2 separate regions of the Homo sapiens genome follow, and region 1 is linked to region 2. Evidence: fine-mapped expression QTL. Tissue or cell type: fibroblasts. Region 2 holds a variant in brackets; the other region holds the start of a gene. All regions are shown on one strand. Distances are from middle to middle.

Region 1 (8,338 bases), 72 kb before region 2:
AGCTTGAAAACACTAATGGAGAAGAAGGAGGTCTCAGGAGTGTGATGGAACAGGTTTACATGGCAGCTTCAACATTTAATTGATGAAAGTGACTATGTGTCTTAAACTCTCTGAGCCTCAGTTTGCACATCCAAAAGCAAGGATATAATTCCATGAACCTTTCCACCTCAAGTCCACAAGGCAGAATAGCAAGATGTTAACTGCCACTCTGAGGACCACCAAATAAAAGGACAATTTATTAGGCCACTTGCCAGCATGGACACAATCGCCTCTTGGCATTTCTTATTATCCACAGAAAAATTAAAAGTATAAATGTAGAACAAAATTATTATTTTTTTTTAATAGTAACATGTAAGATCAATCTTTGTCTTTAAAATACCATGTATCTCATTCTTGGAAAGCATCAAAAAGAAAACGGTATAGTAAGTTTTATCTACAACTTGAATTAAAATTATTCTTGAAATATGTTCTTAATGGTTAGATGAAATGGTAGTTAAATACAAATAGAGATAATCATATACTCTCTCTCCATAAGGCTCCCACCTCCTTCAATAAAGTCTAGTTCACCTAAAATGATACTATTAATTCAATATTACAAGTTGATAAGCACATTAAATCAAAACACAGCAAGATTATTTTAAGAGTCTGACTGAAATGTCAGGATAAGAAATAGATTAATAAATATTGGTTTATAATGTCGGTAATGAAAACAAATACGTTATTTTCAGAAAATAAAAGGTATTCGCCATTAGGTACAAATCATAAAGGGATTATCTACGGTTACTACACTGTAACAACTTTTTACATATTGTATTTTAGAACAAGCTTTTGAGAAGACAAAGCAACACATCAGCAGTTTAACCAATTGTCTTTCTCTTTTAACAGGCTGGTCTACATTAGATTAGATATAAAAGGCTCAGGTACACTTGTGCTCGATCTTAGCCAAATGGCTGAGAAACAGCCAGGTACATTTAAATCAGTGACAAAAGAAAACACTATCCTTTAATAAAATTACATAAAATAGGAAACATCTCTTACTTTAAGAGCAACCATGGTACTTCTTCCTATGGTGAAAACTGATGTTATCTCGCTTAATTATTCATCCCAACACCTGGCCTTGCTCCCTTTTCCACCTCTAGCTATGTTAACACTAGAGTCCAATAATTTGCTGATAAAGAATCTTAACTGCAGTATCTAACAGATCTTAGTGATTAAGCATATGATTTACCCTTTGATTGTACAGATAAGTAAACTGAGGCCAAAAGAACTGAGGTATCTTATTAAAAATCAGAAAGCTAGTTACTTGAAAAGCCCACCTGTCCTTCCTGTCCACATGTCTCACCAGAAAAACAGCAATAGTGAAAAGTCAACTCTGTTTTTAATGGGCCACTTTGTATATTTTAACTGTTAAAATAATCCAAGAGGATATTAGTCATATACGAAGATCCTTTAGATATAATGTGTAGGACCAGCGTTAATTTAATCAACCAAGTCTCCTCTCATTGAATTATTAATTCATAATTACAAAGATGACATTACAGTAAATTAAGAAATACTGTAATTTCATTCTCTCCCAAAAAGTATACACTTAAGTTTGGTGATTCACTGTTATATTTTCAACTAGTAAATCAATGTGCTAATTCTGGGGCTTAGGTATATTGCATATACTGGAATGATATTCACTTTAAATGTTTTGAGATGTATAATGTAATACAGATCCTACGTGTTTTTAAAAGTTCACATCAATTTCAAGCTTTTAAAAATGTATGTACACAAGAAAGCTTCTTTTGCAATTTATATGTTTATAAATGTTTCCATTAGCTAAGATATATTTTGGAATGTGATCAAACAATATTGAATGTCAAGTCCTAACAGCAGGGCTGGTCTAAGGAATTCCCTCTAAGCTAAATCTGGTACTTCTCATATGTGGCTACTGCTCTTTTAAACTACTGTGTCCCTAAAGGGCTAAAAGGAAGAAAATCCTAACTCAACAAGTGAAGGTAGCAAGGCATAGTATTTGAATGGCTACCTTTCATTTTAACTCTACTTCCTAAATTCAAAATTGGATTTGGGTTTGTTTCAAGTTGTTCACAATTTACTAACGAAATGTGCATCTCTCATTCTTCCCCCAAAAGAAAGAAGTCATCCACTCCAGCTACATATAAGTCTCCAATTTCTATACGTGAAAACCGAAATACCACTCATTGAAAAAAAAATGTACAGAGAATTGGCAGGCTGCATGTTTATGTAAACCTTCAGAAAACATGGAAACACGCAGCCCCAACTCACCAGGAAAATCAACACTTCTGATCAAACTATTTTGTGACATTTTATGTCTTTTATACATTTCACTTCATATCCAGTATTCCAGTTTTGCACCGGCGTGCCTGTATCAACCCCAAATCGCCTGAGAGCAATCTAGTACTGTAGCAGAACAGTTTCAACATGAAGAGTTCTGCTCATTGCCTGTGGCGTGGTCCTCGAAACACCTGAATCAAACATTGATTCCCCTCCTCCTGCTATTTAAAACCGAGGGACGTCAGGCTTGGGTAGCAGGTAAAGAAAAGCCACAATAATCAAACAAACAAGCAACCAAAATACCCGAACACGGAACACGCTAAGAACAAAGGAAACACAAGAGTGTGAACAGGAAATGAAGCAACTCTATACACATAAATACCTTCTGGGGCCGCCAACGTAGGTAAAAGTAAAGGTGGAGTCAGAGTATCTGAAATCTGAAACAGAAAGTCCCGTCAAAAGCTACCCCTGGAGTGGATTTGTTTTAACCCCGATCAGGACTTGAGCCCCACATTCGGTGGTGTCAGGGGAGGCCTGGCCGGGCAGAAGGCAAGGGCTAGAGGGCGGCGAGGTCCCTCTGCGCCGCGTCCGAGGGGATGCGGCGCGCCCCCGACTGGGTGCAGCGGGAGGCCGCCCCCCGCAACAAGTGCCGGGTGCCATGGCAACAGCGGGAATTTCCCGATAGGGGAGGCCGGAAGCAGCCTCAGCCGGGCTCGCGGTAGCGAAAGCAAAATCCCGGGGGAGCAAAATGGACGAAAGGCGACCCCCAGGCAGGGGCGCTGGGTGCCTTGGGAATCCGAGGAATCCCTTCTCTTTGCCAGTCGGAGGGGACTAGAGGGAGCCGAAGGGGCCGGAGATGGGCCGAGCGCTGCCCCCCGGGGGTCCTCGGCGCCGGGCGCAGCTTACAAGCGCAGCGCAGCGCAGCAGGCTCCATTCCCGGCCGCCGCCGCTCAGCCCATTGCGCAAACCAACCCCGCTCTGCCGCCGCTGCTGGAACCCAGGAAGCGTGCTTGGAGGCTTCGGGCACTACGCGGGGCTGGAAATACCACGCACTGCCCCTTCGCCTAGACCCCCGCTCCGGCCACGCGGGCTCTGCCCTCAAAGCTGGTGGCTGCCTCAGACTTGGCGGTGGGGGAGGGGAAGGGGAGAGGCTGGCGCCCCCTCCCCCTTTTGGCTCCCGCGCTCGTTGCAGCAGCTGTTGCCAAATGAACCCCAGAATGGGGACGTGCAACCCTCCACCCCACCCCCAGCCACAGACGTCGCGGTCAGAAAACTGGGAAGGGGGCGCTGGGTCCGAGGTTCTGGAAAAGCAAGAACTCACCTGCAAACAGGCAGTCCTTCTCAGCTCTGGACTTCTGGATCACGACGTCGATATCCTTCTGAATTCGCTCTTGCCTTGAACACATCCCCATTAAATAAATCCCTGGAAAAGAAGCAGCCGCTATTTCCACCCCACCCCACCCCCCTCGCACGCTTCCAGCTTTCGTAAATATTCAGTTAAAAATGAAACCTCTGGCCGAGGCAGGGGCTGAAGGCGAAGTGGTTTCGGAAGTGATCCTGGGTGAGAGAAGAGGAGGAGGAGGAGGGGGAGGAGGAGGAGGAGGGGGAGGTCGGCTTTGCATTCCCAGATGTGACCGCCCAGCTGCTGCTCGCCGCTGCTGGATTCCAATTTCCTCCCCTTCTGACAATGGATGGTGATGACACCAAGTCTCACTTTCTCCCTCACCCGCCCGGACCAACGGCCGTGGGGGCCGAGGTGCCGGGGACAGCCAGAGAGCAATCACCGGCTGGGCGGCGGGCGCCGGCGAGGGGCGAGCCCCGCTCCGGCTCACGCGCGCACACCCCTCACGGCTCGCACGCCGGCCTTCCACACCCGCGCACACTCGCGCCCGCGGGCGGCGGCAGCCGTGCCCAGGCTGCTGCAGCGCCGCCCGCCCGCCGCAGACCCTCCGCGCCCGCCGCCTAGTCACCCCGCCGGCCGCGGGCTGCCGGGGCTCGCAGAGTATTAGCCATCCCGGGCGGGAGCCGCTTCTCCCCACACCGACCTCCACTCGCGCCGGGAGCTGAGCGGTCGTGAAGACTCCCTGGGGCTCCCAGCCTTCCCTCTCCGCGCCCCTCCCCCCATCACTTTTATGAATTCGACTCCACTTTCTAAAGGAATTATAGTCTTGTGGCAAACCCAAACCGGAGTGGCTGGGAGGGGGAAAAGGGGGGAAAAGAAAATCTTTAAAAATTAAAAAAATAATAAAACGAACAAATCTTTCCTTATTGCCACATCACATAACACGGAAAAGGCCTTAAAATTACTCCAGACGTGCACCCTCCCCTTCCCTCAGTGCCTGAGTCTTTTTCCTCCAGATCGAAGTAGTTCAGCCCTTTTGGGGCGCCGTTTACGAAACACAGCCCCTTTTGAGGGACTTCCTCCTCTTGAAACTCACCAGTTCTCCCTTCCTAGGTGTTTCTGTTCATGAGAAATGGTCAGAATCAACTGGCACGTTCCAGGGTCTTCCTAAAAGATGGAAACCTGTTTGGCTTGATTTTTAAAACCACCTCCTTTGACAGTCAAGGGAAAGCTACAATCCAGGTGTTCAGAAATGAGATACTGCTCTGATTCTCACTTTCTGTTCTGCCTAAGGACACCCCAGGCTGACGTAGCTGCCCCACCTCTATATTGGTTTATGCCCTAGGAGAGGTCTCCAGCAGGCACTTTTCTTGTTGATCTTTTCTCCACTGAGAAGGCTCCCGCCAGTAGACCATGACTCCTTTTGCTTTGCATACTCAGTGCCATGTACAGTGCCTGGAATACAGGAGGGTGGCCTAAATGTTGGCTGAATGCACGAATGGTCATTTCTTGCAGCCTCTTTTCATTACCCTGTCTCATCACTTTTCTTATCAGCATAAGTGCCCAAGAGTTGCCAAACTGTTTCAGACCCTTAATCAATTTAGTTCTGATTCTGACCGTGACAACATGATGTTCAGCACGGTAGGAATGACTGCCATCCCTGAAGGAGTCTTAAGATTCTGTAGAATCAATGAAAGATCCTATGTTCTAACTCCTTTATCTTTCAGGAAACAAATTACAAAATAATTTCCTTGTCCAGTCATATTCACTATGAGTTACAAAAGGAAACATTCTGCATTATTGAGATCCACTGCAGCCTTTGATGTAGTAAAGCCACAGTCACAACAGTCTATATCTCCTGCTCAGTCCTCTCCTGAAATGCTTCCTGTTTAGGGTAGGACAGGTTCAAGCCCTTTGTCCTTCCTGGATATGTTGCTTTGTGTAGGCCCTTTGGCTGCCAAAAATGCTCTCTTCTCTTCCACATCACCACTGAGAATCATGAGTATTTCTTCTTCCATTATGTGCTTTAATTTCTCTGAAAGGCTGAAAGTCTATTAACTCACAAGAATTTATTTTATAGTTATCTAGCCACAAGGCTTGCATCTTCCAAGTAGAACCCTTACTACAAATAAATGTGAAATAGTTTTAAAGCTACCAAATATTTTTTTGTCTGGATGAGCTCTTAGTTTACTACTCACTCCTTAAAATAGGCCTTCTTGTGACTTGTCCTATATTTGATTTTTTTTTAAGCTTCATGGGCTGCCCTGTTTTGGTTAAACAAAGCTAACCTCACCCTGTTCATGCCCTTAAGGTGTGATGTATTTAATAAATATTTGTACATTTGAAGGAGTAAGATTAAAAAATAAAAACCTATCTAGTATGTATTTCTGCAAGATAAATTTCTCTAATTAAAAACTATACCAACGTAGATCCTTCCAAGGATCTTCCAGGCTAGATCCTTATGGAGCACTTTGCTCAAAGTAAGTCAGCCCATATCCAGGATCCTTTCTTTACCTTGCCCCATCTCCGAATATTTAAATGTTTATATTATGTGTGCTCAACATACTTCCCTTATCAAAAACTATATGCGCCTTTGAGATGAAACAGTTCTATCTCTCCTTAAACACTCATGAGTATACAACATACACACACATGCATTCAGGAACGTGGCACATAAGAGGCCCTTCACCAATTTGTTAAATAAATAAAATCAATATTTACAGTGAGGGAGAACTCAGGTGGTATCCCAAACTAAATTGAAGATAATAATCTACATGTTGGATGATAGACTCTACTGAAAAAATTCCACCGGTTTAGAATAATGATTCAAAGCCACCAGATATAATTTATTAGTGAAAAATATAAATTTTTTGCCTGTGCCAAAAGGCCCAACTGCGGAAGTATAAGGTAATGGACATGCGGCATTAAGTTCAATAATGTGATGTGGGTATTAATAACTAACATTTATCCAGAACTTAATATTTATCCAGAACTTATCCAGAATTCATTAACATTTATCCAGAACTGGTAGAAACTGTTCTAAAAGCTTTACATATAGTTACTCATTTAATATTCACAATAACCCGTATATACTAGCTGTTATTTTTCTCATTTTACAAAAGAGGAAACAGGCTCAAAGGGGTTAATTCATCTAAGGTGAGACATGGACTACAAGAAGTTTTTTTCTCTCTTGAAACCTTTCAGCAATTGAATTGAACTTAAAGGAATAAATATGTACAGAAGCCACACGAGGAAGTAAACCGCCCCGCCAATGGCTGCAGGCCAGGAGTGAAGCCGACAAGAAGCCCTATGATGGATTTTGAGGAGGGCTGAAGCCTGTGGACTCTCAAAATAGCCTCTGCTAGTGGCAGTTATATTTCCCTTTCTTGCATTCAACTTCCTTTCCCAAATGACCCAGCCATTAGTACAGTCTTAAGAAAAGTACAAGCCTGACCTCTGCTATTCCATGGTTATTAAGAAGAGGATAGGAGGCAGGATTAGCAAAGAGGGGAACAGCCTTCTTTGCCATATGCATGATAGTGTCATCAGTGGTAAATGCCCATGGGAATGCCTACCATCCTTGCTGGGATGTGGAAACAGCACTGGGACAGTTTGCTTTTGTGGCAGAATCAGTGAAGGAGGGACAAGGTAGGGGCCGAGGCATTGCTGTGAGAAGACACCACAAAGGGCCTTTAAACAAAGGTGAGGAAGTGGGATTTCATCTGAGAAAAATGGAGAGCCACTGGAAGGAAGATGATCTGAAAAGTTCTTTCTAATTATGAGATTGATATAGCTTCTGCTTGCGGTGGTTCTGTAATGGAAAGAAATCCGTAAAATTCAAAATGCCTGCTAAGGGCCCAACTACCTTCTTCTAAGTAGAGGGACGTGTGCAATTCTTTCCTTATAAAGCTGCTTGGCTGGTGTGGTGGCTCATGCCTGTAATCCCAGCACTTTGGGAGGTTGAGGTGGGAGGGTTGCTTGAGGTCAGGAGTTCAAAACCAGCCTTGGCAATATTGCAAGACCCCTGTCTCTACAAAAAATAAAATAAAAATTAGCTGGGCATGTGGGTGAATACCTGTAGTGCTAGCTACTTGGGAGGATCTCTTGAGCACAGGAGTTTGAGGCTGCAGTGTACTGTAACTATACCACTGCACTCTAGTTGAGATGACAGAGGGAGACCCTGTTTCTTAAAAAAGAAAAGAAAAAGCTGCCTTTGGAAACTAATCCTACTTTTCTGACCTCTTCTGATAGGTCTACTGTAAAAAACCAAAGTCAACTTTGAATAAACTTGACAAGCTGAAGGAGAACTTTAGGTGATGTTTTGTGGATTTGTCACATTTTGGTTCTTACCATACCCCCCGTTAGGTTACTAAGGTCAAATGTGACGGCACAGGGGTGGTGTTGAGGTTTTATGGCCCTTTCTAGCATCTTAACTAACCTAGGTAATACTAAAGCTACAGGATGAAACCTTAACTCTTCTTTCTAGTTCCAAATTTCACTTTAATTTAGATCCATTTTTCCTGTAAAATTTTAATTCCCCTTTCTACCTAGAAGCATTCTAGACCATAATTAGATGAGATGCCTCACTGTGCCATGCAAACAAACTCATTCTTAGCTTGTATTCATTCATATTAATTCCTTCTTTTGAATACCTCTTTTTCTTTTTCTTAGAAAGTACATAAATACTATATGAATATA
Region 2 (8,338 bases):
CCTAACATCACAATTAAAAGAACTAGAGAAGCAAGAGCAAACACATTCAAAAGCTAGCAGAAGGCAAGAAATAACTAAGATCAGATAAGAACTGAAGGAAATAGAGACACAAAAAACCTTTCAAAAAATCAATGAATACAGGAGCTGTTATTTTGAAAAGATCAACAAAATTGATAGACCGCTAGCAAGACTAATAAAGAAGAAAAGAGAGAAGAATCAAATAGATGCAATAAAAAATGACAAAGGGGATGTCAACACCAATCCCACAGAAGTACAAACTACCATCAGAGAATGCTATAAACACCTCTATGCAAATAAACTAGAAACTCTGGAAGAAATGGATAAATTCCTCGACACATACACCCTCCCAAGACTAAACCAGGAAGAAGTTGAATCTCTGAATAGATCAATAACAGGCTCTGAAATTGAGGCAATAATTAATAGCTTACCAACCAAAAAAAGTCCAGGACCAGATGGATTCACAGCCAAATTCTACCAGAGGTACAAGGAGGAGCTGGTACCATTCCTTCTGAAACTATTCCAATCAATAGAAAAAGAGGGAATCCTCCCTAACTCATTTTATGAGGCCAGCATCGTCCTGATACCAAAGCTGGGCAGAGACACAACAAAAAAAGACAATTTTAGACCAATATCCTTGATGAACATTGATGCAAAAATCCTCAATAAAAACTGGCAAACTGAATCCAGCAACACATCAAAAAGCTTATCCACCATGATCAAGTGGGCTTCATCCCTGGGATGCAAGGCTGGTTCAAAATATGAAAATCAATAAACGTAATCCAGCATATAAACAGAACTAAAGACAAAAACCATATGACTATCTCATTAGATGCAGAAAAGGCCTTTGACAAAATTCAACAACGCTTCATGCTAAAAACTCTCAATAAATTAGGTATTGATGGGACATATATCAAAATAATAAGAGCTATCTATGACAAACCCACAGCCAATATCATACTGCATGGACAAAAACTGGAAGCATTCCCTTTGAAAACTGGCAAAAGACAGGGATGCCCTCTCTCACCACTCCTAGTCAATGTAGTGTTGGAATTTCTGGCCGGGGCAGTCAGGCAGGAGAAGGAAATAAAGGGTATTCAATTAGGAAAAGAGGAAGTCAAATTGTCCCTGTTTGCAGATGACATGATTGTATATCTAGAAAGCCCCATCGTCTCAGCCCAAAATCTCCTTAAGCTGATAAGCAATTTCAGCAAAGTCTCAGGATACAAAATCAATGTGCAAAAATCACAAGCATTCTTATACACCAATAACAGACAAACAGAGAGCCAAATCAGGAGTGAACTCCCATTCACAATTGCTTCAAACAGAATAAAATACCTAGGAATCCAACTTACAAGGGACATGAAGGACCTCCTCAAGGAGAACTACAAACCACTGCTGAACAAAATGTAAGAGGATACAAACAAATGGAAGAGCATTCCATGCTCATGGATAGGAAGAATCAATATCGTGAAAATGGCCATACTGCCCAAGGTAATTTATAGATTCAATGCCATCCCCATCAAACTACCAATGACTTTCTTGACAGAATTGGAAAAATCTACTTTAAAGTTCACATGGAACCAAAAAAGAGCCCACATTGCCAAGTCAATCCTAAGCCAAAAGAACAAAGCTGGAGGCATCACACTACCTGACTTCAAACTATACTAGAAGGCTACAGTAACCAAAACAGCATGGTACTGGTACCAAAACAGAGATATAGACCAATGGAACAGAACAGAGACCTCAGAAATAATGCCACATGTCTACAACTATCTGATCTTTGAGAAACCTAATAAAAACAAGCAATGGGGAAAGGATTCCCTATTTAATAAATGGTGCTGGGAAAACTGGCTAGCCATATGCAGAAAGCTAAAACTGGATCCCTTCCTTACACCTTATACAAAAATTCATTGAAGATGGATTAAAGACTTACATGCTAGACCTAAAACCATAAAAAACCTAGAAGAAAACCCAGGCAATACCATTCAGGAGATAGGCATGGGCAAGGACTTCATGTCTACAACACCAAAAGCAATGGCAACTAAAGCCAAAATTGACAAATGGGATCTAATTAAACTAAAGAGCTTCTGCACAGCAAAAGAAACCACCAGCAGAGTGAACAGGCAACCTACAGAATGGGAGAAAATTTTTGCAACCTACTCATCTGACAAAGGGCTAATATCCAGAATCTACAATGAACTCAAACAAATTTACAAGAAATAAACAAACAACCCCATCAAAATGTGGGCGAAGGATATGAACAGACACTTCTCAAAAGAAGACATTAGTGCAGCCAAAAAACACATGAAAAAATGCTCATCATCGCTGGCCATCAGAGAAATGAAAATCAAAACCACGATGAGATACCATCTCACACCAGTTAGGATGGTGATCATTAAAAAGTCAGGAAACAACAGGTGCTGGAGAGGATGTGGAGAAATAGGAACACTTTTACACTGTTGGTGGGACTGTAAACTAGTTCAACCATTGTGGAAGTTGGTGTGGTGATTCCTCAGGGATCTAGAACTAGAAATACCATTTGACCCAGCCATCTCATTACTCGGTATGTACCCAAAGGATTATAAATCATGCTGCTATAAAGAGACGTGCACCCGTACGTTTATTGTGGCACTATTCCCAATAGCAAAGACTTGGAACCAACCCAAATGTCCATCAATGATAGACTGGATTAAGAAAATGTGGCACATATAAACCATGGAATACTATACAGCCATAAAAAATGATGAGTTCACGTCCTTTGTAGGGACATGGATGAAGCTGGAAACCATCATTCTCAGGAAACTATTGCAAGGACAAAAAACCAAACACCGCATGTTCTCACTCATAGGTGGGAATTGAACAATGAGAACCCATGGGCACAGGAAAGGGAACATCACACACCGGGGGCTGTTGTGGGGTGGGGGGAGGGGGGAGGGATAGCGTTAGGAGATATACCTAATGCAAATGACAAGTTAATAGGTGCAGCACACCAACATGGCACATGTATTCACATGTAACAAGCCTGCACGTTGTGCACATGTACCCTAAAACTTAAAGTACAATAATTAAAAAAAAGAAGTAAACATCAGTTGGTGACAAATAATAATATCTGCTTTGTGGGGAAAATTAAAGGCCCTGGAGAGGTATCAGGATGCACTAATTGTTCTTAATGTGTTCTGTCTTTTATGGTAATCACTGATTAAAATTTCATTAAATGAGTATGTATTATGCCTCAACAGAGAATGCCACTATCCCCCATTGTGATGTTGTTTGCTATGACAAAAAATTAACCAAACTTTACAGTTTTATTATCAACAACATCTCCTCCCCCTATCCCCGCTGCTTTTTTTTTTTTTTTTAGATGGAATCTCTCTCTGTTGCCCAGGCTAGAGTGCAGTGGTGTGATCTCAGCTCACCGCAAACTCTGCCTGTCGGGTTCAAGCTGTTCTCCTACCTCAGCCTCCTGAGTAGCTATATTCAGGTGCCCACCCCCACGCATGGCTAATTTTTCTATTTTCAGTAGAGACAGGGTTTCACCATGTTGTCCAGGCTGGTCTCAAACTCCGGACCTCAAGTGATCCACCTGCCTCAGCCTCCTAAAGTGTTGGGATTACAGACATGAGCCACTGTGCCCAGCCCTTCTTTCCCTTTAAGCATACCTAAAAGCCTTTCTACAAAGCGCCAATCAGAATTTAAGTCATCTGGAAGAAATATCAAAAGAGCTCCAGTAAAAACCGTAGCAGACACTGTTGATACTGTTGATACCA[C/T]AGGAAATTGACTCATGGATATAGGCCTCCAAGAATAGGCTGACCTTGTCCCCACAAACAATATTCCAACTATACCAAGTAAATGAGTCAGGATTTCCAAGACACTCACAATGTAGAAGCAGATGAATTCATGAAAGCAGACTGCTTAACTCAAGACCAGCATGACAAGAGGTTGTTATTTAGGATTAAAGGACCTCAATAAAGCGATTTAATTGAGGTTAGTTTAATTTTCTACTTTAATGAACATGAGAGAAACCCATTTTCTTTCTTCTTAATCTATCTTTAACCTCCAATTAAATTTACAAATTATTGAATTTGTAAAAACTAAATAAAACACTCTGAATTCTTAGTGTTGAGGAAAAAAATACCTTGTAGAAATTCTTAATATAAAAACAAAGCTAATAAATTGCCAAGAAAAACATACAAATAATTATTTTGTAAAGAATTGTGACATACAATATTTGGTTTTGTCTATTAACATACTCTTAATTAGCAATATTGGTTAATTCTTACACAAAGTTTCTTTAATAAAAACATTTACTTTTTGTGACTATGTAGTTATTTGTATTGGTTCAATAAGAATTTGTCCTCCCTTCTACCTGAATATATAACTAATTAGAAAAATCTTTTTTTTTTTTTAGATGGAGTCTTGCTCTTTTGCCCAGGCTGGAGTGCAATGGCATGATCTCAGCTCACTGCAAACTTCCAGTCTTGGGCTCAAGCACTTTTCCCACATCAGCCTCCTGGGTAGCTGGGATTACAAGCACCCACCATCATGCTAGGCTAATTTTTGTATTTTTATAGAGACGGGGTTTCACCATGTTGGCCAGGCTGGTCTTAAACTCCTGACCTCAGGTGATCTGCCCGCCTTAGCCTTTCAAAGTGCTGGGATTACAGGCGTGAGCCACCTTGCCTGGCCAGGAAGAATTAATTTTTTAATAAAAAATTTATAGCTGTGCTACAAATTCAATTAAATTAGACAAGACAAATCCAGTAATAAGAATAATTTCTATGTTTTTCACGCAGAAGTGATGCCTATAACATCCTTCTAGGAAACCAGTCTGGTACATGCTGTATGGACTATGCAATCTCAGGCTTGGAGGTTAAAAAGAATGTCCTTTCTTGGCAGAGCAGGGACATCAAGACATCTGGATATCTTTTATTAAAAAGGATACATTTGCATTATAAATACTGCAGGTGAAATCAGGTAGAGGTGAGCTGACTGGTTTGGTCTGCTCTAAACTGAGCTGTTAAACATGTAAAAGTAAATTTAAACCACAAGGGCTTTATAAATCTATAGATAGACATAAACTTGTAAGCCTTAGTTTATTGTTTCGTCAAAAAAATACTAGGAGGTCATTAAATTAATATAATCAACACTTCTTCTTAGATCTGTGCAAATAAAATGGCTCAAAGTAAAATGTAAAATCAATAGTACTGATTAGGAACATTGTTCAGCAAATGTAGGTAGACAAACATGTCCTGTAGAGGAGGAAACATGACCACAAGATGAAGTGTAAAAACCAAAGTGACATCTGGGCCTGACACCATTGTCAGCCCGTACATCATGTCCCACTGCTGAAGAAACAGAGAAAAAAACCTCTGCACTCTGACATAAAGAAACAATAAAAGAGTCTCTCTGTTTACTTGCAGTCCTCCAAATGAATAAAACCTTGAGCATTTCCTGAGAGTTGCTAACTCCTTAATGAAAATTACTTTATCCTTGACTTTACAATGCTATTTATTGTCTGAAGATATGTCATGAACTTTTTGAATACAATAACCATGATAAAATTGCTGTTTTCTGCCATGAAGAGACTAATATAAAGCCTATAGTCTTCACAATACTGTTTGTTTTAAAAAATTCTATTTTTTAAATTTTTTGGGCCAGTTCTTTTGAAGACTGACTTCCTCACATTTCTTTGCAAGTAAATGCCTCCTGCTTATTTTTCCGACATGCTTTTGTTTCTGAGCCTTTCTTTCATGCTCTATACACACAAATCAGCAGGAGATGGTACCTGCAGCTATATTTGGAGTTTACTGCCTCAATGTTCACTTGCAATGAAAGAGAGTATTTCTGTTCTAGCTTCTTAACAAAAGACTAGAAATTCATGCTGAACCAACAAATTGTCCTCTATATTTTTCATCTGCAAGGAGGATTTAAATATTTCTAGCTCAGTATTTCAGCCCTGAAGATTATTTCACCCCCACTGCTAATCGTGACCTAATCTGTTTTTGTGTTGTTAATGCTCCTATATACTAGCCTGGTCAGTAATTCAATAACAGGCTTAATTTCTTAATATTTTAGGCCATGTGTTAATTTTGCTATTTCTTAGCCATTATTCCTCAATAGTTTTAAACTGCATCCCTGCTTACCCTCCCTTTTACTGGACAGGCTTCCTCTGTTTACTAATACAATTCCCCAAATTGATTCATCCACTTGTTGAAATACCTAATTTTAGGCCTTGCACTGACAGCTTGCCTAGGCTTATACTTGTTGTGTTTGGTGTTGTAGTCTTCAGATTCTAAAAACACCATCTAGACCTTACATTACCTCCAGCCAGGCCTATTCCCCCAGGGCCTGCCTTAAGGAGCAGATTTCTTTTCAAGTTTCATCTTCCTCCCATTTATTTCATTTCATGACAGTTAGAGAAGCTGTATACGAACATATGACAAATGGTAAGTTAGCAGAGAAAAATGTTATTTTAGGATAAGTTCAGGGAAAGCTTTTTGGAGGAAAGTCAGCTCACATTAGTCCTGATGATGGATAGTGGACTACAGATGATGGAATGATGAAGTGGAAACTCGGGTGGGTACATATGGACATTCCACATAGAAGCAGTGTGAGCAAAACCACCAAGACAGGAAATGAGATGGAATTGATAAGGCAATGCAAATAATTCAGGTTATTTAGATAATCAGTGTTGGGGGACGCTGGATTTATGGGAATCAATGGTTAATCAAAATGTGAGCAGCATTGGTTTGGTAATTCATGGAAGAGGTTATCATTCAACAGGGGGAGTGGCTTCTCAATTATAAACAAACATGTCTGAAGGTCACTGAACATCAAGGCTATCCTTCAGTTAAAATCTTATTAAAATTATACTGACCTCTGATGACCTTCAGAGAGCTCCAGCTAGATGGACTGATGATAAGAGAAATTCGAGAAGGCAATGGGACAAATCTTTCTGCAAATCTCTGTTATGTCATATATCTAAGGTTTCTGCTGGATCCAGTGATTTGTTTGTTCTGACTGTAGTACAAACCTATTGGAACAATAAATCTAGTTATAATAAATGACAGAGGGCATTCAAGCAGATGCAAGAAGCAAAATATACAGGTGTAAAGACAAACTATATTAGGCCTCCCATCAAGCTTCTCTAACATTTTCACACCACAGCCCTGCCTGACTTCTCTGTATCTGGGTAGGCCCCTTCTGTTTGTTAAACCAGTTCTCTGATGGTGACTACCTGATTCTCTAGTCCTCAAGTTCACTCATCCTTTTTATTGAGAATGACATTTTTAGACTACTAATAATGTTTATATATAAGAAAGAAACTGAGTTTTTATATAAATATATAATCTTTTCAAATAAAAGATTATAATCAAGGAACTGTAAATAATAGAAAAATTACATAACGTTTCCCTGTTTGGGGATTGGTTAAATGCAATATTATAGAAGCCTGAAAAAATCATGACTGTATTACAAAAGAATATAAAAATAATTGAAGGCTAGGAATTATGTCTACCAACTAATTCAGTCATTTGGCTGTTTATTCTCATTTGAACAGTAGTGGATTAAAAAAAAAAAAGACTTTCAACTTTCATCACATGGAGAAAAGGATCAAGTACACATTAGAGAAAGCTGATGGCAATGATTTCTAGTTTCAGTTTCTATTTTCTGTCAGTTAACCATCATTTTGGTAAACAACCTTTTTAAATGTCTTTTCTTTTAATTTTTAAATTTTTACTTTAAAGACAGGATCTCACTATGTTGTGAAGGCGTTGGCCTCAAACTCCTGGACTCAGGTGATCTTCCTGCCATAGCCTCCCTAGGTGCACACCACCATACCCAGCTATTAATGTCTTTATAAAAGCATTTTTAACCCTACTGGTCTAGCTATTGCATCAAATAAATAGCTAATTCCATTGGGGAAAGATTAGGGACTCATGAGTGAAAATAAATATTTTATTTGGATAATGGCTACAAAATTTTAACAGTCAAAATAAAGAAGAGATTAAAGCCATGATGATGACTTAAAAGATAAAGTTAGGTAGAAATGTGAACTAAGGGAAATGACTCAACACATTCAGCAACACAAAACTGTGGCCTAAATTCACTCTGACAGTTGTTATGCTATCTCCTGCTGCCCGAGTAAAGTAAGTTATGAACAAAACACATGAAGGGGACCAGGCAGACATATGGTCAAATGCTTTCTGTGCAATATGTCTGTCTCCATATTATCTTCTCTGTCTCATTGCACTTTGGACATTTTTATTCTTCCTGCGGATCTATTTTTGTGAAGCAATGTGATTTAAATGAAAAGAAC

Alleles and levels. Alleles are on the strand shown, and positions count from the first base shown. SD is a standard deviation of normalised expression in the study named.
As copies of C replace T in region 2, the expression in fibroblasts of the gene that starts at base 4,169 in region 1 goes up (moderate effect, 0.71 SD a copy in GTEx).

The links. PIP is the estimated chance that this variant, and not a neighbour inherited with it, causes the effect.
Region 1: it holds the start of PARP8, and the variant in region 2 is fine-mapped to the expression of PARP8 in fibroblasts (GTEx, PIP above 0.99).

Annotation. Positions count from the first base shown.
Region 1 is chr5:50,662,468-50,670,805 of GRCh38, reverse strand. It overlaps PARP8 (poly(ADP-ribose) polymerase family member 8), which reads right to left and starts at 4,169. Exons shown (of 26, transcript NM_024615.4): 1 at 3,620-4,169; 2 at 2,681-2,735. The coding sequence starts at 3,710. RefSeq lists silencers at 3,045-3,374, 4,067-4,126, 4,177-4,326 and enhancers at 2,347-3,546, 2,982-3,894.
Region 2 is chr5:50,590,868-50,599,205 of GRCh38, reverse strand. No RefSeq gene overlaps it. Among named protein-coding and RNA genes, the nearest start is that of PARP8, 72 kb to the left of the region's middle. The variant C/T (reference allele first, on the strand shown) is at 3,789.